2 separate regions of the Homo sapiens genome follow, and region 2 is linked to region 1. Evidence: fine-mapped expression QTL. A gene starts in region 1. The other region holds a variant in brackets. All regions are shown on one strand. Distances are from middle to middle.

Region 1 (15,357 bases):
CATTCCTGAGCCTCCATCTCCTCGTCTGTGCCTCAGGGATGATCACTCCTGCACCTGCCACCATAGGGCGTTATTGTGCAGCTCAAACCAGCTGAGGCGCACGACTGTATTCTGGAAACCACAGTGTGTCAGACGTCGGGGAGAATTACAAAGATTAGGGGGTGTCAGATCGGGAAGGGGCCTCAAAGAGCCTGAGTTCAAACCTCCTGTGTAGGAGGCATAGAGACAGTCCCAGAGAGAAGCAAAACACAGCTTCTGCTGCACAGCCAAGGCCTCTCTGCACAGCCCCAGCACCAGGTACTGTTACTCCCCAGAACAAGCCCCTTTTGTCATGAAACCATCCCTTCCAGGACCTCTGGCTCCCATTCCCTCTCCACCCCTTCCTGGCATTCCGCCCTGCCTGACCCTGTGTACCTTAGCAGCCGGGCCAGCCAACCCAAGGCCGGCCGACGTCGGTACTTGTCATCGTCACAGTCTCCATGGAGGCCTGGTGTCCGGTCATCATCCCGCGTATCATACACCTTCCTAGGGGCTACAGGGTGGAGCCACTAGCATCAATAGACTCAGGAAAACTGGCCGCTTTGGGGAGGGCTAGGGGGATCACCTGCTCTCCTCAGTCTGACAGAACATCTCAGAATTGTGAGGAGGTAATGGCTGTGCCTGGATTAAGGAAAGGTTCCTCCGGGTGGGTCTCTGGATCCTCAAGCTCCCCCTATACAAACCATTCCACCCTCTTCCTATCCTTCTGCGGCCTGGATAACTCCCAGGCTCACCGTGAGTCAAGGGCTCAGGATTGCCCATGTGGATCACTGTGTGCTGCTCGGGCCGGCCTGGGGAAGCTGGGGGCCGGGGGGCCTGGCTGTAGAAGGCTGGGGCAGCAGAGGCGCTGTCTACCTCCTCTGGTCCAGGGGTACTGCTGGCTGTGGGTGGAAAGAGAGCCGTCAGCAGAAGCAGTGCATAGAGCTCAGGGGTAGAGCATGTGACTGCAGACCAAGGGAGCTGTCAGCAGAGCAGGGAGGCTAAAGCCCAAACAGTCGGTGGAAGCCACCACTTACCATTAAAACTAGACCAGTCAGAGAAGTCAGACGTGTTGAGGGGCTCGGGCTCTGGGCTCACCACCTCATCGATCTGGAGGAAGGAATCTGGGTCACCAGGCTGCCTAGTATTGTCCCCACCCACCCATCTGACTCAGGTGGGGCCCAGGGCAGATAGATGGTCAGACAGACGAGGGACTCTCACCAGAGGGAGGCCCAGTCCTGCCCGGGCCCAGTTGACTGTGGCCAGCTTCTCTCTCAGTGCGGAGGCCACGGGGCCAGCCAGGTTGGTTGGGGGGAAGATGGGGCCATTGCAGCTGGGGCACTGATAGCCGGCAGGTGCCGTGTTTCGGGGTAGCTGGGCAGCACGTTCATTGAGGCAGGCCCAGTGAAAGAGATCTTAGGGCCCATGAGACAGGGGAGAAGAGACATGAGGAAGAAGACACTTAGGGCTCCTAGCCTAGCAATAGTCCCCAGACCATTGCAGGACATATGGACACATGTGTGTGTGCCAGAGCCTTCTCCTCCCCGTCCTGTTCCCTAAAATGTCAGTCTTCTTGGCTACCACCATCTAAGTCCAGGCAGGTGCTACCAAGCTGTCCAGCTCACAGGGGTAAGTTTGGGTAGGAAGAAAACGCCACCTCCCCTTTCAGTCCTTTCAATGAGTCCTCTCTGGGCCTGCACTCATCATATTCTTTGGGCTAATGGCTAATAATGAACAGTTTCAGAAAAGGTTCCTCGATACACACACAGGCACACATATACATGTACACATCCCTGGGCACAAATGTACATGTCCTTATAAGCACATAATCAAACACAAGTGGCATTCCCTATATCTACACTATGGGTACAGGAGCCCTCACACATACACATCTATACACTCACAGGTTTGCTAACAGGCACCCTCAACCATGCATTCTCTTGCACTCCCACAACACACCTGTGTTCATATGTTCACATACATACATTTACCCATTCATTCACCCCAAGTACAGATCAACACACTAACACTCATTTAAACACACAATGTACATTAAGTGCCTGCAAGTACACACATGCACTCACAAGGAGAAACACATATGGAGCTGACTCTTGCATGAGCTCCTTCAAAAACTGGAGCTAAGGCTCTTACCCCAGATTCAGGTCAAAGTCATGACACATATGTCTGCTGACTTCTTTTAGCTAACTTTAATGTGGGAAACTCACTTCCTCTCTGTTTAGCCTTGGAATCAGTGGTGGATCCTGAATATCTGAAAGCAACATGCCGGTCTGGCTAGCTAATAGTCACGGCCACCAGCATACCCGTAAGCTTGACTGGTTCTCGCTGAAACCTCCAGATTGGCAGGGCTTAATTTTTAGGAAAGAGGAACTAGGAGCTTTAATTTTTAGGAAAGACAGTGAGGCCTAGAAAGGAAGAATAACTTGCCTGAACTTACACAGCAGGTAAGGAACTTTAACAGGACTAGAATCTGGGCTCTGAGACTCGGGGGACTCACTGTCCTGCTGCTTGAGGAGGGCCTGGAAACCAGTCACCAAGCTGGCCCCTGAGGCTGGCCTGATCCCCCCGAGGTGCCAAGGCCTCACCATAGCAGACAAGGCGGGTCGTCTCTCGGCTGGCCAGGGGTATGTTGCACAGGCGGCAATTGGGGTTGTAGTCGCTATCTTGGAGCCATTGCAGGTAGGACTGGACGATGCACTGGAGTGGGAGAGAGATGTCACAACTGGTGCTGGGGCTGCTCGGCCTATCACCCCAAGGTCCGACTGTCTCTTTTTCTCTAGCCACAGAGGAGACTCATCCTTTCGTTTGTTTAATCAATAAATATTTATTGAGCACATACTGTGCACCAGACTCTCTCTTGGGAACGGGGGATATATCAGTGAACAAAATAAATCAAGTCCTTGCCCTTGTGGGGCTTACATTCTAGCGCGGGGCCCCTCATGGATTTGGAGGAAGCCAATACCGCCTTGCCCACCCAGTGCCCTGCTCAGTCGCTCCCCTGAAGGCCCCACCTTGGCGTGATTGGCTACCAGGCAGTGCTCGCAGACGTTGACCCGATGTTCGAAGCAGAACAGGTTGGTCACCTTTCTCTTGGGGCACTTACAAAGCCCCATGATCGATCCTGGGAAAGGGGCATGAGTTGGTAGGAAGTCAGGTTCTGGTGGCCACCACTACGCTCTCACCAGCCCAGTTTCCACTCTTAACTCCCCCAGACACCTCTCATATTCGCCCCGATCTCAGATTCCTGCCCACTGTCCCTCCTTATGCGGAGAAACACCCCCTGCATAAATCCCGCCTCCGGCGACCCCTCAATCCTTCTGGATCCCGCCCCCGGCCAGGCCCCTCCATCAGAGGCTCCCCGATACTACCGGCCCCGCCCCCAAGACCTCTCCTGAGCCCCACCCCCTCCAAGTCCCGCCCCTTCTCTACAGACCCCAGTCTCTGTGTTTACTGATCGGCCGCTGCACTGGTTCCGAAGGGCGGTAGCGATGGCTCGAGGCGCGGAAGGGCAGGGACCACTCTCCCCAGGGCTCCTGCGCCTCTCCCTTCAGCCCCGGCCGCCCCGATTATCCCTCCGCTGCCACGTCTCTTCCGGGTGCGGCGCGCGCTGATGACGCCATCGCGCCCCTGGGCCACGCCTCCGCTGCCGCTAGAGGTGAAGACGGGTGGAAAAGACTCGGGGTTCCGAGGGCCGCAGACCGCTAGCCCTACGTCACTTCCGCTTCCTTTCCCGCAGGGCGGGTAATTCGAACGTTTTTTGCAGCGAGTGGCCTTCCCGGTTGGCGCGCGCCCGGGGCGGCGGCGCTGGAGGAGCTCGAGACGGAGCCTAAGTTATGTCTGGGAGGCGAACGCGGTCCGGAGGAGCCGCTCAGCGCTCCGGTGAGCGGAGGGCGCGCGGGAGACGTGAGGTCGAGCCGTTTGGGGGACGCAGTCCGGTGAAAGATGGCCTCTTCCCTCCCGCTGCCGCCGCCGGAGGAGGCGCCCTTAAAAGGGCTTGTTTGGGAATCTTCTCGCTGTCTCTAGAACCTGTTCTCTGGACTCTAAGGTCTAGAGTCCTCCTCTACCACTTAACTTTTTTCTCTTTCCAGGGCCAAGGGCCCCATCTCCTACTAAGCCTCTGCGGAGGTCCCAGCGGAAATCAGGCTCTGAACTCCCGAGCATCCTCCCTGAAATCTGGCCGAAGGTGAGCCCCAGATTTCTCACTTCCTCCCCTTGTGGCCCCTCACCTAATGTTGAGCTCACGTTCATCCCTCTTCTCCAGACACCCAGTGCGGCTGCAGTCAGAAAGCCCATCGTCTTAAAGAGGATCGTGGCCCATGCTGTAGAGGTAAAGGCTAAGGAGAGTGTTGTGGGTGGTTAGGCGGGCAAAACTGGGGACCAGCTATGTGATCAATTGGTATTGTCCCCCGCAGGTCCCAGCTGTCCAATCACCTCGCAGGAGCCCTAGGGTGAGTTCACTTTCATCTACTTAATTAAGTAGAATCTGGGTCACTCTAGAGCTGGACAGCACACATTGGCTCCTCACATCTGCCCAGGGAGCTGTTTTGCAGTACTGCAAAAACAGTTTGCCTGTGGGCACCTGCATGCATTGCCAGTCTTGATTACTCCCTGAAGACTTAATACACTTAACTTTTTATGCCTTGTGTATTTCTACCATTTTCCTGGAACTTCCTTTAAAAGCTGAGCTATGTCTTAACTCCACGTACTGCCTTTCTAATCCATTATGCCTTCAGCTTTCATGTATGGGTGTTCTGAGATAAGTCATGTGTATGACATTTTTACAGTTTTAGCAGAAGTTATTATCAAAGGATGTTTCATTAATAGACAATCTGAAGACATACTGACTGAGAAATGTGAACTCCTTTGAAGAGCTGATAGGGCTTAGAGTCAACTGGGGAGAAAGACCAATGACAAGTGATAGCAACGTTGTGTACTGGGACTGCAATAAGGAATACTAGATGCTATGATGGTAGCTAACCCAGACCATGTGGCTCAGGGAATGTTTCGTGGAAGAAGAAACATTTGAACTGAGTCTTTAAAGACAAGTAGAGGCCGGGTGCAGTGGCTCACGCTTGTGATCCTAGCATTTTGGGAGGCTGAGGCGGGCAGATCACTTGTGGTCAAGAGTTTAAGACCAGCCTGGCCAACGTGGTGAAACCCTGTGTCTACTAAAAATACAAAATTAGCCAGGCATGGTGGCACGTGCCTATAGTCCCAGCTACTCAGGAGGCTGAGGCAGGAGAATCGCTTAAACCCAGGAGGCGGAGGTTGCAGTGGGCCGAGATCACGCCCCTGCACTCCAGCCTGGGTGACAAAGCGAGACTCCATCTCAAAAAAAAAAAAAAAAAAAAAGACAAGTAGGTTTGTTCCAGGTCAAAGAAGCCATGTTTGCAGAGATTGGGAATTTAAAGAAAAATCAAGGTTCGGGGAATAGCAATTTGTTTAGTGTCTGCAGCAGACCTCAGCAGGGGAGGAAGCACCCTAAGGCAGAGCAGATCCTGATGAGGCACAAAAGCCACACTCATGGCTTGGGCATCATTCTTGGGTCTGTGGGCAGCCTTTGGAGAGTTCTGGGTAAGGTAGTGACCGAGTCAAGTTTGAGTGTTTTAAGAAAGACCCCTCTGGGGGCTGTGGGGAGAATGGTTTTGAGAAGGGCTACCCTGGGGCTCCAAGACCAGTGGAATGACGTGAAGTCCAGGAATTCTGAAGCATGAAGCCAAGGGCGTGAGCTAAAGCCAGGATGATATACAGTACTGGGTTCAGAGGGAATTGCCCCCCAGTGGCCTTCCCTGACCACCCTTACCCTATTGCTGTCACATTTCTCTATGTAATTCTCTTAGGCCTTACCAGTTCTAAAGATAGGGTCTTGTTCTGCCACCCAGGCTGGAGTGCAGTGGCGAGATTTCGGCTCACTGCAGATCTTCCCTCCTCAGCCTCTCAAGTAGCTGGGACTATAGTCACATGCCACCATGCCTGGCTAATTTTTTGATGTTTTCTCTAATTTTTTTTATAGAGATGAGGGTTCACTATGTTGCCCAGGCCGGTCTTGAACTCCTGGGCTCAAGTGATCCTCCCACCTTGGCCTCCTAAAGTGTTGGGATTACAGGCATGAGCCACTGTGCCTGGTCCTTATCAGTTCTTATAGTGTATTTTCTTGCATGTTTGATGTCTTTCTCTCCCCCCTCTAAGAACACAGGCACCTTGAGGGTAGGGACTTCTGCCTTTCCTAGTAGCCACTCATTCTTGTTGATTGACTGAGATTCATGGTACATCGAGCAGGATAAAGTTGCCAGGACCTGGGTGACTGCTTGGCTATAGAGAATGAGGAAGTCGTAGTCAGCAGTGACCACCAATTTGTTCAGCTTCCCTGTGTTTTTTTTTTTTGAGATGGAGTCTCGCACTGTCACCCAGGCTGGAGTGCAGTGGCGCAATCTCGGCTCACTGCAACCTCCGCCTCCCAGGTTCAACCGATTCTCCTGCCTCAGCCTCCCAAGTAGCTGGGCTTACAGGCACCTGCTACCACACCTGGCTAATTTTTTTTGTATTTTCAGTAGAGATGGGGTTTCACTATGTTGGCCAGGCTGGTCTCAAACTCCTGACCTCAGGTGATCCACCCACCTCAGCCTCCCAAAGTGCTGGGATTATAGGTGTGAACCACCATATCTGGCCACCCATTATCTCTTGAACTTCATCTTCAGTTTCTTCCTCTTGCCTTCACTTCAGCCACACTGGCCTCCTTGTTGTTTGACCCTGACTAGTACACTGTGGCCTCAGGGTTGTTGCACCTTCTGTTCCCACTGCCTAGAACTTGGCCATGAGTCACTCCCACACCTCCTTCAAGTTGTAGCTTGAATGTCACCTCAGTGAGGGATGTATTGACCTTTATCTTTTTGCAATTCTAACCTGCCCCAAGCACTCTCTCCTGTTCTGTTTTCCTGTAGTGCTTGATACTGCTAACATAATACTGAATTTTCTTACCTGTTTTTCTCTTAGAATGGGGCAGGGGTTTTCTCTGTTTTATTCCCTGCTGTGTTCCCAGTGCCTGGCACAGGACAGGTGACTGATAAATACTTATGGACTGAGTGGACATTTAGGACAATCCTCATCAGCTGTGTGGCAGATGGACCACAGCAGGCAAGGGTGGAAACAGGGAGAGAAATCAGAAGGTCGCTGGGACCAGCCTGGGCAACAAAGGGAGACCTCCCCTACTCTACAAAGAAACTAAAAAAAAATCAGCCAGACAGAGTGTCACATGCCTGTAGTCCCGGCTACTCAGAGGCTGAGGTAGGAGGATTGCGTGAGCCCTGGAGGCTGAGGCTTCAGTGAGCCATGATCGTGCCACTGCACTCCAGCCTGGGCAACAGAGTTGAGACCGTTTATCTGGAAACAAAACAAAAAACGTTGCTGAGCTGGTCTAGAAGACACCTAATGAGGGCTTGAGTTGGTCAGAGGAGAGGCTGGATGCTGGGCACATTTTGGAAACAAGCGACAGCACCAGCAGATGGGGGCAAGTCCATTTGTGTCACAAAAGCAGACTCCTTGGAAGCAATGGTGGGTTGTTTTCTTCTCTCCATGTCTCTTTCAGGGTCTGATTTGTCCCTTCCTTAAAAAAAGTGTGTGTTGGCCGGGCATGGTGGCTCACGCCTGTAATCCCAGCACTTTGGGAGGCCGAGGCGGGCGGATCACGAGGTCAGGAAATCGAGACCCTCCTGGCTAACACGGTGAAACCCCGTCTCTACTAAAAATACAAAAAATTAGCCGGGCGAGGTGGCGGGCGCCTGTAGTCCCAGCTACTCGGAAGGCTGAGGCAGGAGAATGGCGTGAACCCGGGAGGCGGAGCTTGCAGTGAGCCGAGATCATGCCACTGCACTCCAGCCTGGGCGAGAGAGCAAGACTCCGTCTCAAAAAAAAAAAAAAAAAGTGTGTGTCCTGTGGGTCTTTCCACCCTGAATCTTCTCGGGCTTTTCTGGAAGTAAGCAGTCCAGCTAAGTATTGAGGGCATCCCCTCTTCTGTCCTGGTGCAGATTTCCTTTTTCTTGGAGAAAGAAAACGAGCCCCCTGGCAGGGAGCTTACTAAGGAGGACCTTTTCAAGACACACAGCGTCCCTGCCACCCCCACCAGCACTCCTGTGCCGAACCCTGAGGCCGAGTCCAGCTCCAAGGAAGGAGAGCTGGACGCCAGAGACTTGGAAATGTCTAAGAAAGTCAGGCGTTCCTACAGCCGGCTGGAGACCCTGGGCTCTGCCTCTACCTCCACCCCAGGCCGCCGGTCCTGCTTTGGCTTCGAGGGGCTGCTGGGGGCAGAAGACTTGTCCGGAGTCTCGCCAGTGGTGTGCTCCAAACTCACCGAGGTCCCCAGGGTTTGTGCAAAGCCCTGGGCCCCAGACATGACTCTCCCTGGAATCTCCCCACCACCCGAGAAACAGAAACGTAAGAAGAAGAAAATGCCAGAGATCTTGGTGAGTGAGAGGCAGGGGTTTTTCTCTGCCGTGTGCTCTGGGAGACGTGCAGGGCTGGGGCTCTGGCTCTTTTGGGGGATAGGCAGCACCTGCAGGGTGTGGGTGAGATGCTCCAGCCACCATGTTCCCTTCTCACTCACCTGCTCCTCATTTCTCTTCCCTCAGAAAACGGAGCTGGATGAGTGGGCTGCGGCCATGAATGCCGAGTTTGAAGCTGCTGAGCAGTTTGATCTCCTGGTTGAATGAGATGCAGTGGGGGGTGCACCTGGCCAGACTCTCCCTCCTGTCCTGTACATAGCCACCTCCCTGTGGAGAGGACACTTAGGGTCCCCTCCCCTGGTCTTGTTACCTGTGTGTGTGCTGGTGCTGCGCATGAGGACTGTCTGCCTTTGAGGGCTTGGGCAGCAGCGGCAGCCATCTTGGTTTTAGGAAATGGGGCCGCCTGGCCCAGCCACTCACTGGTGTCCTGTCTCTTGTCGTCCTGTCCTTCCTATCTCCCCAAAGTACCATAGCCAGTTTCCAGATGGGCCACAGACTGGGGAGGAGAATCAGTGGCCCAGCCAGAAGTTAAAGGGCTGAGGGTTGAGGTGAGAGGCACCTCTGCTCTTGTTGGGAGGGGTGGCTGCTTGGAAATAGGCCCAGGGGCTCTGCCAGCCTCGGCCTCTCCCTCCTGAGTTGCCTTCTGTTGGTGGCTTTCTTCTTGAACCCACCTGTGTAAAGAGGTTTTCAGTTCCGTGGGTTTCCCCTTTGATTCTGTAAATAGTCCCAGAGAGAATTCGTGGGCTGAGGGCAATTCTGTCTTGGAGGAAGAAGCTGGACATTCAGCCTGTGGAGTCTGAGTTTTGAAGGATGTAGGGAGCCTTAGTTGGGTCTCAGACCATAAGTGTGTACTACACAGAAGCTGTGTTTTCTAGTTCTGGTCTGCTGTTGAGATGTTTGGTAAATGCCAGGTTGATAGGGCGCTGGCTGCTTGGAGCAAAGGGTGCATTTCAGGGTGTGGCCACCAGGTGCTGTGAGTTTCTGTGGCTCATGGCCTCTGGGCTGGTCCCTTGCACAGGGCCCACGCTGGAGTCTTACCACTCTGCTGCAGGGGTGGAAGGTGGCCCCTCTTGTCACCCATACCCATTTCTTACAAAATAAGTTACACCGAGTCTACTTGGCCCTAGAAGAGAAAGTTGAAGAGTCCCAGACCTACTAGCATTTTGCAACTATGCTTGTAAAGTCCTCGGAAAGTTTCCTCGCGTACCAGACAGCGGCGGGGGCTGATAGCAATTTTAGTTTTTGGCCTCCCTATCCTCTCACATGAGAACACTGCCTGGATGCATCTCATGATCTCTGGAGAATTTCCCCATCTTTCTCTTCTTTCCATCGTGTGGATTCAATAGTGTGGATTTGAAGGCTGCCCTGCCCCCGACTCTCCTGCCGCACCCCTGGCCATTGTACCTTTTGATGTTTAGAAGTTCGTGGAAGTAGACGCTGAGGTGTGCAGAGGAGCTGGTGGATAACAGAGAATGCCAGGGAAGATGAGTGCTGGGTCAGGGTACTTGGATGAAACGGTGCAGGCCAGGCGGGCCCTAATAAAACCCTCTGCCAGGTCTGGGAGTCCCAGGCCATCTGCTCAACGCTCTGTGGTTTGTCAGACCTGCAAGCAAGCCCCCTGCTGGGGAAGCCTAGGTGTCCTTGAGCTGAACCGCACTGAAGAACTCTTGTCCTCACTGGCTGATGCAGCAGAACTCTTGGGAAATGTCTTAGTCCTGCAGAATCAGGAGTCACCAGATGATGCAGAGTTGAGATCATCATTGCAAAGTTCTCTGTTCCTGAGGAACTAAATTTAAGGAAAAAATGGGATTTTGTTTTAGAGTTGGAAAAAAAGCCTGATTAAAGAGTTTCTGCCTGTTCATGGACTGTGTTTCTTTTATTGAGTCAAAGGCAGAGCCGAAGGTAAGGCCAGGCCTCCAGTGGGCTGCATCACTGGGGTTGTCCCTTTGTCCAGGCGCTCCCAGCCCCGCTTCCCCGCATTCGCCCCATGGTAGATCACTGTGCCCCACACACTTTTTTTTTTCTTTGAGACAGAGTCTAGCTCTGTCTCCCAGGCTGGAGTCCAGTGGCGTGATCTCAGTTGACTGCAACCTCTGCCTCCCAGGTTCAAGCGATTCTCCTGCCTCAGCCTCCCAAGTAGCTGGGGTTACAGGTGCCCACCACCACGCCTGGCTAATTTTTATATTTTTATTAGAGATGAGGTTTCACCATGTTGGCCAGGCTGGTCTTGAACTCTGACCTCAAGTGATCTGCCCTCCTCGGCCTCCCAAAGTGTTGGGATTACAGGCGTGAGCCACTGCGCCTGGCCTGTCCTGCCCCGTGTCTTGTTTATTTCTGTCCAGTCCCCAGTCTGCTCCTCTTCTAGGAGGAAGAAAGTCGGGTCTGGGGTGAGAGTGCTAAGAGCTCCCCCAGTGCCCACGGGAGATGCCTGGGAAGCAAACACCCTCCCGAGTCCAGCCCTCGTTCCCCATTCCCTTTCAGGCTCCTTTGAAGGAGCCCGAGTTGCTCACTCCATGGTCCAGACTGGACACTGTGTAGCAGCAGGTGCTGTGGGACCCTGGGGAGCTGATCAAAGATGCTGATGCCTGGAAATTCTCCCACTTGGCCTTAGGTAAGGCTAGGACCCTACAGGCAGGTGGCACAGACCAGCCTCCCATCCCATCCTCCACACTTGTACTTGCCTCCTAGTCATCCAAACAAATCAAAGCCATTAAGTTCTCCACAGACTTAATCCGCTTTGACCTCCTTCCCCCACCCAGAGGAGATGGGTCCCCTCTTCAAGGCTAGCCTTTCCACTTTGGTTTTTGATCCAATTATCTTGTCTCTGAAACCTTCCTCTTCTTTTTCTTCCAAGTCCTAAATGGCTTTTATTTGCTTTGTTGTTAAAAAATGACAACCAGGCTGGGCACAGTGGCTGACACCTGTAATCCCAGCACTTTGGGAAGCTGAGGCAGGAGGATCACTTGAGCTCAGGAGTTCAAGACCAGCCTGGGCAACATAGGGAGATCCTGACTACAAAAAATGTAAAAAAAATAAATGGGCGTGGTGGCACATATCTGCAGTCCAGCTACTCAGGAGGCTGAGGTGGGAGGATCACCTGAGCCTGGGAGGTCGGGGCTACAGTGAGCCATGGTGACGCCATTGCACTCCAGTCTGGGCAACAGAGTAAAGACCCTGTTTCAAAAGACAAAAAAGACAACCAAAAGTCGACCAGCATCTGTCGTTAGCTACCACCATTTTAAGCTTGAAGGAACGTTCCAAGTTGCTCTTTACTTTGAATTTATTCCCAATGCCCTCGTCACTCTCTTTAACAGCTCAGACAAAGGTAACCAGTGATGTCCTAATATCCAACATACTAAGCTCGGGCCTCTGCCAGGACACCCTCTTTGGGGCTGTGGCACTGCCAGCTCCTTTTTCTTGGCTTTTCCTGAAATGTCTGGATACCAGGCCTCAGTCCTGGACCCTCTTTCCCACCTGCCTGCTCTTGCCGGGTAGCCTCGCTCTCTGGACTGCCTCCTTGCTCAAGACTTGTCCATCTTTATCTCCAACCTAAAACTGTCCTGAGCTACAAATCAGAATCTAGAACTGCCTTTCAGGAAGTCATCTGAAGCTCTGCTCATCCAGCAGCTTGCCTACTCCTGTGTTCTCTGTGCCATTAGCAGAGCCACCAGCTGACACAGTCACACGGGCCAGGAACCCAGGACCAGCTCCTTCTTCCTTCACCCCATGTGGCCAGCCCCATCCCCCTCAACATCCCCCCCACCCCACAGCCACTAGACAATTGCACTAGCCTCCTGTGGGTCATTCCCTTGGGCTGCTGTATCTCCACACTGTCTGCACTGCAGCTAGAACACATTTCCTAAAACACACAATATGATCCTGTTTCTCCCCTCCTTAATTTTTTATTTTTATTTTTGAGATGGAGTTTCACTTTTGTTGCCCAGGCTAGAGTGCAGTGGTGCAATCTCGGCTGACTGCAACCTCCACCTCCTGGGTTCAAGTGATTCTCCTGCCTCAGCCTCCCAAGTAGCTAGGATTACAGGTGCCCACTGCCACACCCGGCTAATTTTTCTATTTTTAGTAGAGACGGGGTTTCGTTATGTTGGCCAAGCTGGTCTCTAATTTCTGACCTCAGGTGGTCCGCCCAACTCAGCCTCCCAAAGTGCTGGGGTTATAGGCGTGAATCACCGTGGCTGGCACGCCGGGCCTATTTCTCCCCTCCTTAAAACCCTTTTTTTTTTTTTTTTTTTTGAGACGGAGTTTCACTCTTGTCACCCAGGCTGGAGTGCAATGGCACGATCTCGGCTCACCACAACCTCCACCTCCCGAGTTCAAGCGATTCTCCTGCCTCAGCCTCCTGAGTAGCTGGAATTACAGGCATGTGCCACCACGCCCAGCTAATTTTGTATTTTTAGTAAGAGACGGGGTTTCTCCATGTTGGTCAGACTGGTCTTGAACTCCCGACCTCAGGTGATCCACCCTCCTTGGCCTCCTAAAGTGCTGGGATTAGAGGTGTGAGCCACCATGCCCAGCCAAAACCCCTGCCAATTTTTTTTTTTTTTTTTTTTTTTTTTTGAGACAAGGTCTGGCTCCGTCGCCCAGGCTGGACTGCAGTATTGTGATCTGGGCTCACTGCAACCTCCACTTCCCAGACTCAAGCCATCCTTCCACCTCAGCTGCCCAAGTAGCTGAGACTACAGGCACGTGTCACCATGCCTGGCCTTTAAAACCTTTTAATACAATTTCACACCTGAGTGTAATAAGACCAGAGAAAGTTGAAAGCAGGCATTGGAATAGATTTGTACACCAAGTTCCTAGCAGCATTATTCAACAATAACCAAAAAGCTGGAAACAACACAAATGTCTACCAGCAGCTGAATGGATAAAGTGTGACCTATCAATACAGTGGAATATTATTCAGCCTTAAAAAGGAGGAAATTGGGCCAGGCGCGGTGGCTCACACTTGTAATCCCAGCATTTTGGGAGGCCAAGGTTGGTGGGTCACTTGAGGTCAGGAGTTCAAGACCAGCCTGGCCAACATGGTGAAACCCCATCTCTACTAACAATAGAAAAATTAGGTGGGCGTGGTGGCGGGTGCCTGTAATCCCAGCTACTTGGGTGGCTGAGGCAGGAGAATGGCTTGAACCCAGGAGGTGGAAGTTGCAGTGAGCCGATATTGTGCCACTGCACTCCAGCCGAAACAGAAACCTCTGCTGACTTCCCATGCTCCGTGCAGCAGTGGAATGAATGGTCGCTGGTGCCTGGCTGCCCAGTAGCGTCTCAGCCTCCAGGCATGTGCTGTCTGCAGGACCCCAGCCACTCAGTGGGAGTGAATATCCCAGATGCTTGCTCTCCCTGATCCCGGCAACCAGGACCTAAACTGATCAGATTCTCCACCTTGAGTGATGGGTGTGAGGAGGGATGAAGGCACCGCCTGTCCAGCAGTGTCTGGTGTGGGGAATGCGTGTTTGTCCATCTGCAGGCCCTCCCCTGTCCTAGTTCTGGCAGTCGGCGCCCTACAGTGCCTGCCCTTTGAAGTCTCTTCTTCCCGTGAGTTCTGTGACTCCCCAGCATCCTCCCAATAAACTCCTTTTTGCTCAAATCAGCCAACATTGTTTCCTGTTTGCACCCCAGAACCCTGGCTGGTCTAGGGGGCTCCTGACACCTTAGTGGGGCTCATGAGGACTCCAGGCCGAGGCTGGTGTCCAGGCTTCAGCCCACAGACCCACCGCAGGCTGCGAGCTGCTTGGAGGTCCCTGCCTCTGAACCTTTGCTCTCTGCCTCTCGTGTCTTTCCCCACTCCTGCGTCACCTGGGGAGCCCCGCGTCATTAAGTCTGGCTCACGCGTCACCCCTGCTCAGCCTTTCCTCCCCACCTGCCCCACCCTGGTGAAAGCAAAGAGCACAGGTTCTGCAATCCAACTGGGTTTGAATCCTGGCTCTGCCAGCTTCTAGCTGTGTGATCCCAGGCAAATGATAATAATTAGACTCTGATGTGCCTCAGTTTCCTTAACAGTAAAATGAGGACAATAATAATACCTATGCCACAGTGTTTAAAAATGAGATAGTCGGCCGGGCGCGGTGGCTCACACCTGTAATCCCAGCACTTTGGGAGGCTGAGGTGGTTGGATTACTTGAGGTCAGGAGTTCAAGACCAGCCTGGCCAAGATGGTGAAACCTCGTCTCTACTAAAAATACAAAAATTAGCCGGGCATGGTGGCGGGCACCTGTAATCCCAGCTACTCGGGAGGCTGAGGCAGGAGAATCACTTGAACCCTGGCGGGTGGAGGTTGCAGTGAGCCAAGATCATGCCACTTCACTCCAGCCTGGGTGAAAGAGAGAAACTCCATCTCAAAAAAAAAAAAAAAAAAAAAAAGAATGAAATAATACAAGTAAAGCACTTGGTGCATGGTAAGTGCTCAATGAACAATTTTCAAGTAGAACTGACCATTCCCTCCCTTTTTAAGTCTCAGAAGTCCACACAGACCTCCATCATAGCACCTTCAAGCTCCATTCTGTCTGCTCTGCACACACGTTTACACAGTAGCTGTGTAAACTCCAGCTCAGGCTGGAGGCAAGGTTGTATTTGTCTCTGTCCCCCCAGTGTCCAGGCACATCATGGAGTAAGTGGATGTGGTGGTTTCCCACCAGCCTGGGCAGGTGTGCCCCTCCAGTGGGAGCTGGGGACAGGGGCTTCAGAGAGCCTCTGAGTGCCTGGTAGGAGGGGCACAGGTGGAGTCAGGAGTGATGGCACCTGGCACCCTGCCTCAGTCATGAGCCTCCCACAGCACAAATTCTAGTCCCACCAGTGTGCATGTGAGGTC
Region 2 (9,057 bases), 710 kb before region 1:
AACCAGCATTACTCCCTGTCACTCCAAGTCAATATTGACATAACAAAGGAAGGCGAGGGGAGGGTGGTTGGGGGGGTGGGTGGGGGAGCGGTTCAAGGTGGCTTCCTAGCCAGTAATCCTTTCAAATCTCCAGGGTGCTTGCAACCATCTTCACCTCTTCCCAGGGGAAAGATTCTGCCCCGGGAGTAAGAAGCTCTAGAATTCTGCCTTGGGGAGAGAGGCTGATGGGATTGTCAAACTGGGGCCCTGGAATCAGTGCTGTCGGGCTGGGGACCAGTGTCTCTGGCCTGTAAAACCTTCTCCCAAAACCTTCTGGGAGGCTTTGAGGGTCTCAGAGGAACCTGGCAGGAAGGTCAGAACTCAAACACTCCCACATTCCTGGGCCCTCCACTGGAAATGGGGTCAACGCTTAGCTGGTCACAACTTACCAGGAATCTGTGAGGTGAACGGAAACGTGCCCAGCTGGCTCTGGGGTCATGGTTGGCTGGTGATGGAATGGCCCAGCCAGGGGACAGGCCAGCACAAAACGCACCCCCACTCTCCAGCCATCTGAGGCACCCGAGCGTGGACTGAGGACAGTCCCTTTCTCATTGCCAAAAACTGTGGGAAAACTCTCCAGTGGGCCACATGACTTTCAGAGGTAAAATTAAGTTCTCTATCTTCTACCCTTTACTTGACCCACAGGATTCTCTCCTTGCCATGGGGATGAGGACAAATTCTCCCTTCATCCTTGAGATTGGACTCCCGCCACACATCCTGGAGGAGCCTACAGAGAAGCCGGCAGGTCTCCCTCACCTGGATGGTGCCAGCGGGTGGCCTGGACCACCCAGAGGCCCTCTCCTGCACCTGACAGGAAGCCCCTGGGGCATACGTCTCCCCTGCCACTTCCACTGTGGCCACTGGAAGTGTGGCAGAGAAAATAGCTAGGACAAAAAGAAGTCAATGATTTCAACCAACGGAATTTCTTTGTCCTTTGTAAAAATCAACACATGATCTGTTACTGATTGGGATGTGAAATAAAACTAAAAATAACAGCACACTGAGCCTGGCTCAGGGCTCAGCTCACCTTTACCACGGTCCAAGTTCAGTTTATCAGATCCCAAGGAGCAGCTAAGCAGCAAGTCAAACACAGGTGAGGGTGGAGGGCGGAGGGCGGAGCGGGGAGGGGGCTCTGGCCCTCTGCGTGCCCCCACCAACCCCCAGGTAGAGAACCAGCCAGCTCACCAGGGAGTGTGGCCAAGCAAGAAGCTATACACAGAATTCTGAGCCCACACCCTAATCTGCCTCAGGTGGGGAGGCCACTCACTTCCCTTTTTGCCTCAGTTTCCCCACTGGGGTTACCAGGGTCTTCTGGCACATTCCCTTGTTTTAAGGAACGGTGGAAGAGGGGTCCCCTTGAGATCAGGTTAAGCTGTGAAACATCCTGCCAGCGCCACAGGCCACTGGGTCCTGGAAGGTCAGGCCACAAAGACCTCACCAGGACACTGTCTCCAACAGCTTATTCAGGAGGGAAACTGAGCAAGAGCCCTCACGGGGCCCCTCACTGCTGCCCTCATTTCCCCACTTTCCTACAAGGCCTGGGGCGGTGCCAGGGAGTCTGCAGATCAAGGGTCAAAGTCAGTTGGTTAATTACTCCTCCCCTCCCCCCTCGGAGGGGCTGGGCTGGGCGTTCAGAGCGTCCACGCCCCGCCCCCAAGGCCTGGGGAGGGGGCGTTCGGAAGGAAGCAGGCTTTCTCCAGACCAAAGACTTTGTTGGGGGTGGGGGAGGACAGAAGGGGTAGGAGTGTTCTTGGGGCGTTCAGGGGAAGATGCCGCTGGAGGAAGAAGCAACTCTCACAGTCGACGCTGTCTAGGCGTCTGCCAAAAATAACTGGGTACACCAGCTTCCCCGGGCCTGGCCCTCCGCTGTGGGGTGGGCTCCCTGCAGCTGCTTTCCATGCAATTGTGCCCTCCGCAAGGTGAAGGAAGTGCGTTTCTAGCAGAGGTGAGACCCGATCCCACCTCTGCTTTAAGGGCAAGCGGGGCGCAGCGGGCGCCTGTCCCACCGTCTCGGCTCACTGCGCGGGACTAGCAGCCGGAGCCCAACGAAAATTTGGGGGCCCACGCCCCCCACCGGCCCGACCCTCACTCCGACCCGGCCACCAGTGTTGTGGGGGAGGAGGAAGGACCTGTGCGAGCGGCTGAAGCTCTGAGCTTTTAACACAAATCTCGGCCGAAACTCCAGCCCGCTCCCCGCCCCCCAAAGTGGCATCGCTCCAGTGCCTTCTCCCGCCTCATGCGAGTCCCGGTTTTCTGGATTTACGACGTCGGAGCCGAGGGTCGCCTGAGCGGTGACACACCCCGCTGCCTCCTCTGTGCCGCGGTTCAGGGGGTGGGGGTAGGCGGTTCCGCGCCCCCTGGCCCTGGGAGCGGCTCCCCTTCCACCATGCAGCCCCCGCCCCGACCAGCGCTCTTCCGCCGGCCCCGCCCCCGCCCCCCGAGTCCCGGGTCGAGAGCCGCGGGCCCACCCAGCCCAGGCCGCGGCCGCATTCAGCCCCGGCGCCCACACCGCGCCTGCCGCCTGGCTCCGCGGACCTGCGCCCGCCCGCCCGCCCGCAGCCTCGACGCCGCCGCGGGTGCCCCAGGCCGGAGGGCGGTTGGAGCCTCACCTGGCACGTAGATCTCGCCGCGCTCCTCGTCGGGGAGCTCGCTCCAGTTCCTCTTGCACGTGGAGACGCACGGCTTCTTCACCAGGAACGCGCGGGGCATTTTCGAACCCTCGTCGCTGGACACGGGCCGCTTCCGTAACTGAAGCCGGGAGCCGTCCCACCTTTGCGGGGCCGGGCTGAACGCCGGGAACGGGGGCACAACAGGGAAGGAGTCGCTAAGGCGCCCCCACGTTCCGGGGAAGGTCCGAGCCCGGACGGCGCGCGGCGGTTCCACCTCCGCGGAATGTCGCCGTCTTCCCTGAGAACGAGGTCCCTTGCGGCCAGGTGCACCGGGCGGCGCGGGGAAGCGGCAGGTAAGCGTCTCCCGGCTCGACTGGCGTCCCCGCCGCCGCTCGGGAAGTCTTAAAGTGCGAGCCGGACGGACGGGTTCACGCTTTATTGGCTCGCGGCGGTGTGTGTTGGTGGCTGGGGCGGGGGGGGGTGGGGGTGGGGGGCGGTGATCTGATCTAATTAGCTTGGGGTGGCCCGGGGAGCGACGGCGCATGCGTTGGGAAATAACGGTGACAACCCACCTATTTGTTACCTGTCGAACCGGTTTCCATTCCGCTGCGGGTGAGGTGGCCTCGCGGCC[C/T]GGGCGGGGCGGCCGGGCGGGGCGGGGTCGGGGGGCGAGCTTCGGGCACTCAGCCCCTGGCTGCCCAGCCGGCCCGGCCCCCGCGGGACCTCCTAGCCAGGCGTACTGGCGTTTGCAAACAGGAGTTTCGGAGCGAGCGGAGCCGGGAGGGAGGGGGCAACGTTATTTGCACCGGCGCTGGCACGCTCCGCGGGTGATGACACGAAACTCGCCCCACTGGGGCCGGCCCAACCCGGCGCGCCCGAGGCTCCTGGGGAGGCGCGAAGCCGCCGGGCGGGAACGGGCGGCCCGGTCCGCACTTGTTGAACCGGGCCTGGGCCCAGGCGGCGCGGGATCCCAAAGGCTTGGCTAAGCAACTCGTGGCTCAGCCGGGGAGGTGTTTGCTGGGCGCCGGCTTTGTGCGAAAAGGCACGCAGGGCCGCAGGAGCGGCCCCGGCCGGTGTGTGGGGAGGCACGGACCGCGCGACCGAGTACCCGTCGGAGAACCCGCCTTCTGCCCGGAGGGCTTCACGGAGGAAGTGGCTTCAACTGCGCGGAGTGCGCCGAGAGCCCGACAGACCCCCGTGTCTTGGCCAGTGGGACTTATGCATCCTCAAAAAAACTCCTCCTTGTCCCAAATGGGTGGATTTCAGGTGCAGCCAGGCTGGTGGAGCGCGGAGGGCTGGGGACCTCAGACCGGGAAAGGCTCAGCCGCCTTTGCCCTGCTGCGGCCACCGCGGAGAGCTTCCTACCCACGGCCTGCCCAGGGCTGAGGTTCAGCCTGGGACCCGCGCCCCCAGCCACTCTTCATACTCTCCTCAGGCCCCAGGCCCACGTGGAGGGATGCCCCCGCTCCTCAGAGGCCTCCATGAAGCCCACACTCTCATCGTGACACTTGGGCGCTGGCTGGGCTTCCTTCACTCGCTGACCTACTTAAGGGCAGGGATGGGGCGTTCGTGTTTGCCTCTTCCCCTGCCTTTCTAAGGGCTGTGACCTCCACTCTGATCCCAGCCAGACCTTTGAGTTCAACTGACATTAAGTGAACACCTGGTATGTGCCTATCTTTTGAGGTGAATCCAGGAGAAACAACCTTAAACACAATCTGTCTAGGACAGAGGTGCAGTTAGTTCATTCATTCAACAAATATTGGTTGAGCAGTTTTGTTGTGCCAAGCCCTGATGGGCTGGTACACAGTGGGTGCTCGGTGGATACTACGGTGAAGTCTTCACAGATGTCCCTAGACACAAGGGGCAGTCTTCCCCATCAAGGGAGCAACTCCAATGTCCAGAGGGACAGGACACTGGGTAGATAAAGTGAAGCCAGCCAGGGGAACCCCTCCCTGCACAAGTGAGTTACAGGATGTGGAATGGGGCCCCAGGTGGGAGGCGGTGTTGTCTACTGCTATATCTCCAGCATCTACAGCTGTGCCTGGCACAAAGTGGGTTATCAATAAATGTTTGTTGAATGAATGAATATCCTCTTTTCTTGACTCCTGTGACCCATTCACCTTTCACAGTCCAACTTTTGGTGGAGACATAGATATGGGAAGACAATACTACAAATTCAGTGAGAAAACACAACTGGCCCTGGCCGTTGGGGAGAACAGAGTTGGGGGGACGGGAGAGAATGTCCCTATCTAAACGGCAGTCACAATCCTGTCATTCAGATGCACAAACCCCACGTGGCCACAGCTTTCCATTTTCCAAGAGAAGCCAGAAGTCCAGATTTGTAAGTGAAATCAACTAATTTTTAAATGTTAGCTCAATTTTTTTATTTTTAAAATAATTTTAAGAGTTGGGGTCTCACCAGGTCGCCTGGCTGGAGCACAGTGGTGCAATCTCGAATTACTGGGCTCAAGTGATCCTCCTGCCTCAGCCTCCTGAGTAGCTGGGACTACAGGTGTTTGCCACCACACCCAGCTAATCAAAAAATTTTAAAACATGGAATGGATCCAACAAAACACCTTTGTGGGTTAGGTTTGACCCACAGGCCGCGGTGTGTGGTGTGGCTGTCTTCACGGGCAGCTCAGGAGACAGACGATGTATGTGACGGCGGGGAAACACGGAGTTGAACTGTGAGTGTCACGAAGGCTGGCGGCCTGTGCTCTGTTCACCACATCTAGCAGTACATCTCTGTTCATCTAGCAGCACAGTGCCAGCTAGATGGTGTTCATTCATCCCGTAATTCTTCCCTTAATTCCTGAGAACCTGCTGTGCCAGGCACTGAGATTCTACAAGGCAAGGCAGACAAAGAAACAAGGAAACAAGCAGAAGCCTAAGATGCACAGAGAACATTTGGCGAGAGAATGTGATGGTGGCAGGTAGGGGTGCTGAGGCCTGAATGAGAGGGTGGAGCCAGCTGTGCAGAGTGGAGAAGATCATGACCAGCAGAAGGAACAGCTGATGCCAAGGCCCTGAGCAGGAGTGAGCCTAGTGTGTACCGCGAACCCAAATGCAACCTGGCCGTGCGGTGGGGGGAAGAGAGGGTAGGGAAGCTGAGGTTGGAGAGGCAGGTGGGCCACACGAGGTGCTCTTAAAACCCAGGCCAGGCCTCCCCTCGGCTCACACCCTCCAGTGGCTTCACTGCAGCTGGAATAAGAGCCTGAGGCCTGGCGTGCTGGGGCCGCCGTTGACCTCCCAATCCCCTTCCAGCTGGGTCCCTGTATGCCAGCCACACTGCTGTCTCCCGCGTCCCCTGAACAAGCCTTGGCCTGTTCCCAGCTCTGGCCCCTCCTCCCGATGCTCCTTCTGCCTGGAACACTTTTCCCTACTGGATTACTGGCCACCTTTCTTCATTCAGGTTTCAACCAAATGTCCCCTCTTCTGAGGGGCCTCTCCATCCACCCCAGCTAAATCCTTGTCCCCTGCCACCTCTGTCCCACTATCCTATTTTCTTTGCCACAACTTTGACTCTGTGGCGTTTCGTTTGTCTTTCTTGTTTATTGTTGGTTCTCCTCCCCACCAGTGCAAGTTCTGAACTTGAGGGACCCCTTTTTATTTTACTTTTTTATTTTTATTTATTTTTTTTGAGACGGTGTCTCCCTGTCGTCCAGGCTGGAGAGCAGTGGCGTGATCTCGGCTCACTGCAAGCTCCGACCCCCTGGTTCACGCCATTCTCCTGCCTCAGCCTCCTGAGTAGCTGGGACTTACAGGCGCCCGCCACCATGCCCAGCTAATTTTTTTGTATTTTTAGTAGAGACGGGGTTTCACCATGTTCTCCAGGATGGTCTCAATCTCCTGACCTCGTGATCTGCCCGCCTCAGCCTCCCAAAGGCTGGGATTACAGGAGTGAGCCACCGTGCCCGGCCTTATTTTTTATTTTTACTTTTTGTGCCCCTGCTGGTCTGGGGTGGGACCCCTTTTTAAACACCATTTTAAATAGCTTTATTTAGATAGAATTCATATACCATCAAATTCACCCTTTTGTAAGATGTACAATTCACTGGTTTTTAGTAACCTCACAGAGCTGTACAACCATCATCACTAAATCTCAGAACATTTTCATGGCCCCAAAGAAAACCCTGTACTCATTAGCTGTCACTGTGTCTCCCTTCCCCCTGGCCCAGCACCCACTATCTGCTCTATCTCCATGGCTTTGCCTATTGACTCGTTCTTTCCTAAGCCTTCCTGTATCCCCAGCAGCCAGTGCTGCGAGAGTGTGTTTGTTGTAGCCCGATTTTACAGATGAGAAAACTGAGGCTCAGGACCCCTTGGGAAGCTGACTTTCCCTTTTACAAGCCTTGTGTTTAGTGTCTGCCCACAACTGGGCTGCATGGGGAGGACAGAAACTCAGCAGGAGAAGAAATGAGGGAGGGCGTGGAGTGGGGAATTCCCAGCTCAGCATCCGGCAGTGGCCCACACCTGGGCCCTCGACTGGGATGTTGCTGTCCCGGGTGAGTCCGGTGACAGTCTGAGCTCAGCTCCATGCCTGGCCTTGCCAGGGACAGAGCCAGCACCACCCGCCAATAGGGGAGCAGACAGGTGAGAACAGGGCCCATCCAGGGACCTGGACACCCAAGAGGGCCGAGGGTACCTGGTGTGGGGGGAGGACCAGGTCAGATGCAACAAGGGGCTGTTTGTGGAAGTCGAGGCTCCACCTCTGAGGGGCTCTGTGACTGAGAGACCGTACCTCTGTGGGCTTCCCTTTCCTCATCTGATACCCACTCTCGGTACCTGGGGTTGCTGTGAGCCTCAGTAAGTCCATGCGGATTCGTCCACTGCAGTATTGGAGACCACAAGTGGGTTCCCTCCCTCCAGACCCTCAGCCTCAAGGAGTCAAGACTCAGGCAGGAGGTGTGCAGAGGCCACGCTGTCAGAGGCTGAGCCGGGGCCAGAGCCAGTGTCAGGCCCCCTGATCCTTGGAAACCTGTCTTCTCAACTCTGCAAGAAGTTTAATGATCATTCCTGCCTCACCGTGAGGGTGGTGAGGGCCGGGGATGTGCAGTTACCAGCACCCTCTGGGCTCAGACAGAGAAACCAGACTGGCTCCTACTGCAGGCTGCCTCCCCTCCCCAGGGCTGCTCTCATCCTGCCTCTTTCATCTTGGGTTTAATTAGCCAGGCTGCCTCACCCCACAGCCTCTTGGGTGGGAGTTATCACTCCCATTTTATAGATGGGGAAACTGAGGCACCTAGAGGGAAGTAGTTTGGGGCTGCTGCCTGTGAGTCAACTGTGGAGCCAGGGCCTAGAGGAGCCGGGACCGGGCCTTCTGGCTGGACCTGTCCCTCCGAGTGGGTCTCTATCTCTCCATCCCCAAGGGCACCCAGACAGCCTCCTTTTTGGCACTCTCCACCCCTCAACTCTCCACCACCTCCCATCTGGAGCAGGATGGGGTAGGGAGAGGCCAGCTGGCACTGGCTTGCATGGGGGCTCAGGCCTGTTTCATCTTCAAAGCGGCTAATTGGAGCCAGAGGGGTGGTGAGGTTTGGGCGCCGGCGGTTCTGTGCCCTGGAAACCGGTGGTCTGTGGGGCACCTGCAACCTGGGCCTCTGGCCTGGGAGAGACCGCCGCCCAGACCCCCGAATGCCCCCAAACAGCCAGAATCCAGCCCACTGAAGTCTGGAGTGCTGGGTTCCGGCCCGGCTTGGCCCCAGATCTCGGTTGGCAAGGCCGCCCTCCTCCTGGGCCTGTTTTCCCCATCGCTAGGCATGCCTCGAGCCCCGTGACCGGCCAGGCCCTGACAGCCCGCACTTCCCGAGTATGGATCCCGTTGTTTTCGACTTAGGGCCCTGCCCCGCCCTCGCCGTCACGACCCCTGCGGGCCGCCAGCGCGGCCTCGGGCAAACAAAGGTCAGAAGCTCCTGGCTGGCCGCAACCGCGGCGCCGGCTCCTCGCCCCCAAGCCGAGCGGGCTGGGGGCCCGGGCAGGCGTCAGGGAAGCGAAGCCAAGCCCTGCGGCGCCCGCCGGACCGGTTCAGCTGGGGCGCTTTTCCTGCGGGCGCCCTGCGACCGCACCTTGGTCACCCCCAGGGGCCACTCCGGGAGCCCCAGGACCCGCACCCACGCCCCCCGGGGCCGCGCGTCTGGCGCAGGGTGCGGTGTGCCCGGGCGCCGGCGGGGGGCGCGCTGGCTGCCGCCCTGCGCGGCTTGGCGGGCGCTGGTGGGACCGGGCCGCTGTCCGCCGAGGGCCGCGGGATCGCAGCCCTGCGCCGCGGTACCCGGCATCTGGGGCCCAGGCCCACCCCGCTCCGCCACCCCTACCCACTCCCCTCCGCCTTTCCTGCCCCGGCCTGCGGCGGTTTCGGGGAAGGGGGCCTGCGCGGCGGGACAGTTAGTCAGCCCCCGCGAAACCTGCGAGTCGA

Evidence for each region.
Region 2: its variant is fine-mapped to the expression of ZFPL1 in whole blood (TOPMed, PIP 0.91).

The regions. Positions count from the first base shown.
Region 1 is chr11:65,072,491-65,087,847 of GRCh38, reverse strand. ZFPL1 (zinc finger protein like 1) reads right to left here and starts at 3,626. Exons shown (of 8, transcript NM_006782.4): 1 at 3,470-3,626; 2 at 3,048-3,157; 3 at 2,622-2,733; 4 at 1,240-1,433; 5 at 1,056-1,128; 6 at 774-920; 7 at 415-532. The coding sequence starts at 3,149. It overlaps CDCA5 (cell division cycle associated 5), which reads left to right and starts at 3,808. Exons shown (of 6, transcript NM_080668.4): 1 at 3,808-3,915; 2 at 4,125-4,219; 3 at 4,298-4,363; 4 at 4,449-4,484; 5 at 8,061-8,495; 6 at 8,661-10,395. The coding sequence starts at 3,870. The coding sequence ends at 8,741. RefSeq lists enhancers at 2,323-2,907, 3,497-3,766, 3,847-4,076, 8,716-9,217.
Region 2 is chr11:65,781,065-65,790,121 of GRCh38, reverse strand. It overlaps OVOL1 (ovo like transcriptional repressor 1), which reads right to left and starts at 3,059. Exons shown (of 4, transcript NM_004561.4): 1 at 2,649-3,059. The coding sequence starts at 2,748. LOC124902693 reads left to right here. Exons shown (of 7, transcript XM_047427980.1): 7 at 685-1,121. OVOL1-AS1 (OVOL1 antisense RNA 1) reads left to right here. Exons shown (of 2, transcript NR_108085.1): 2 at 685-1,121. RefSeq lists enhancers at 3,373-4,354, 7,775-8,432 and a silencer at 8,693-9,057. The variant C/T (reference allele first, on the strand shown) is at 3,280.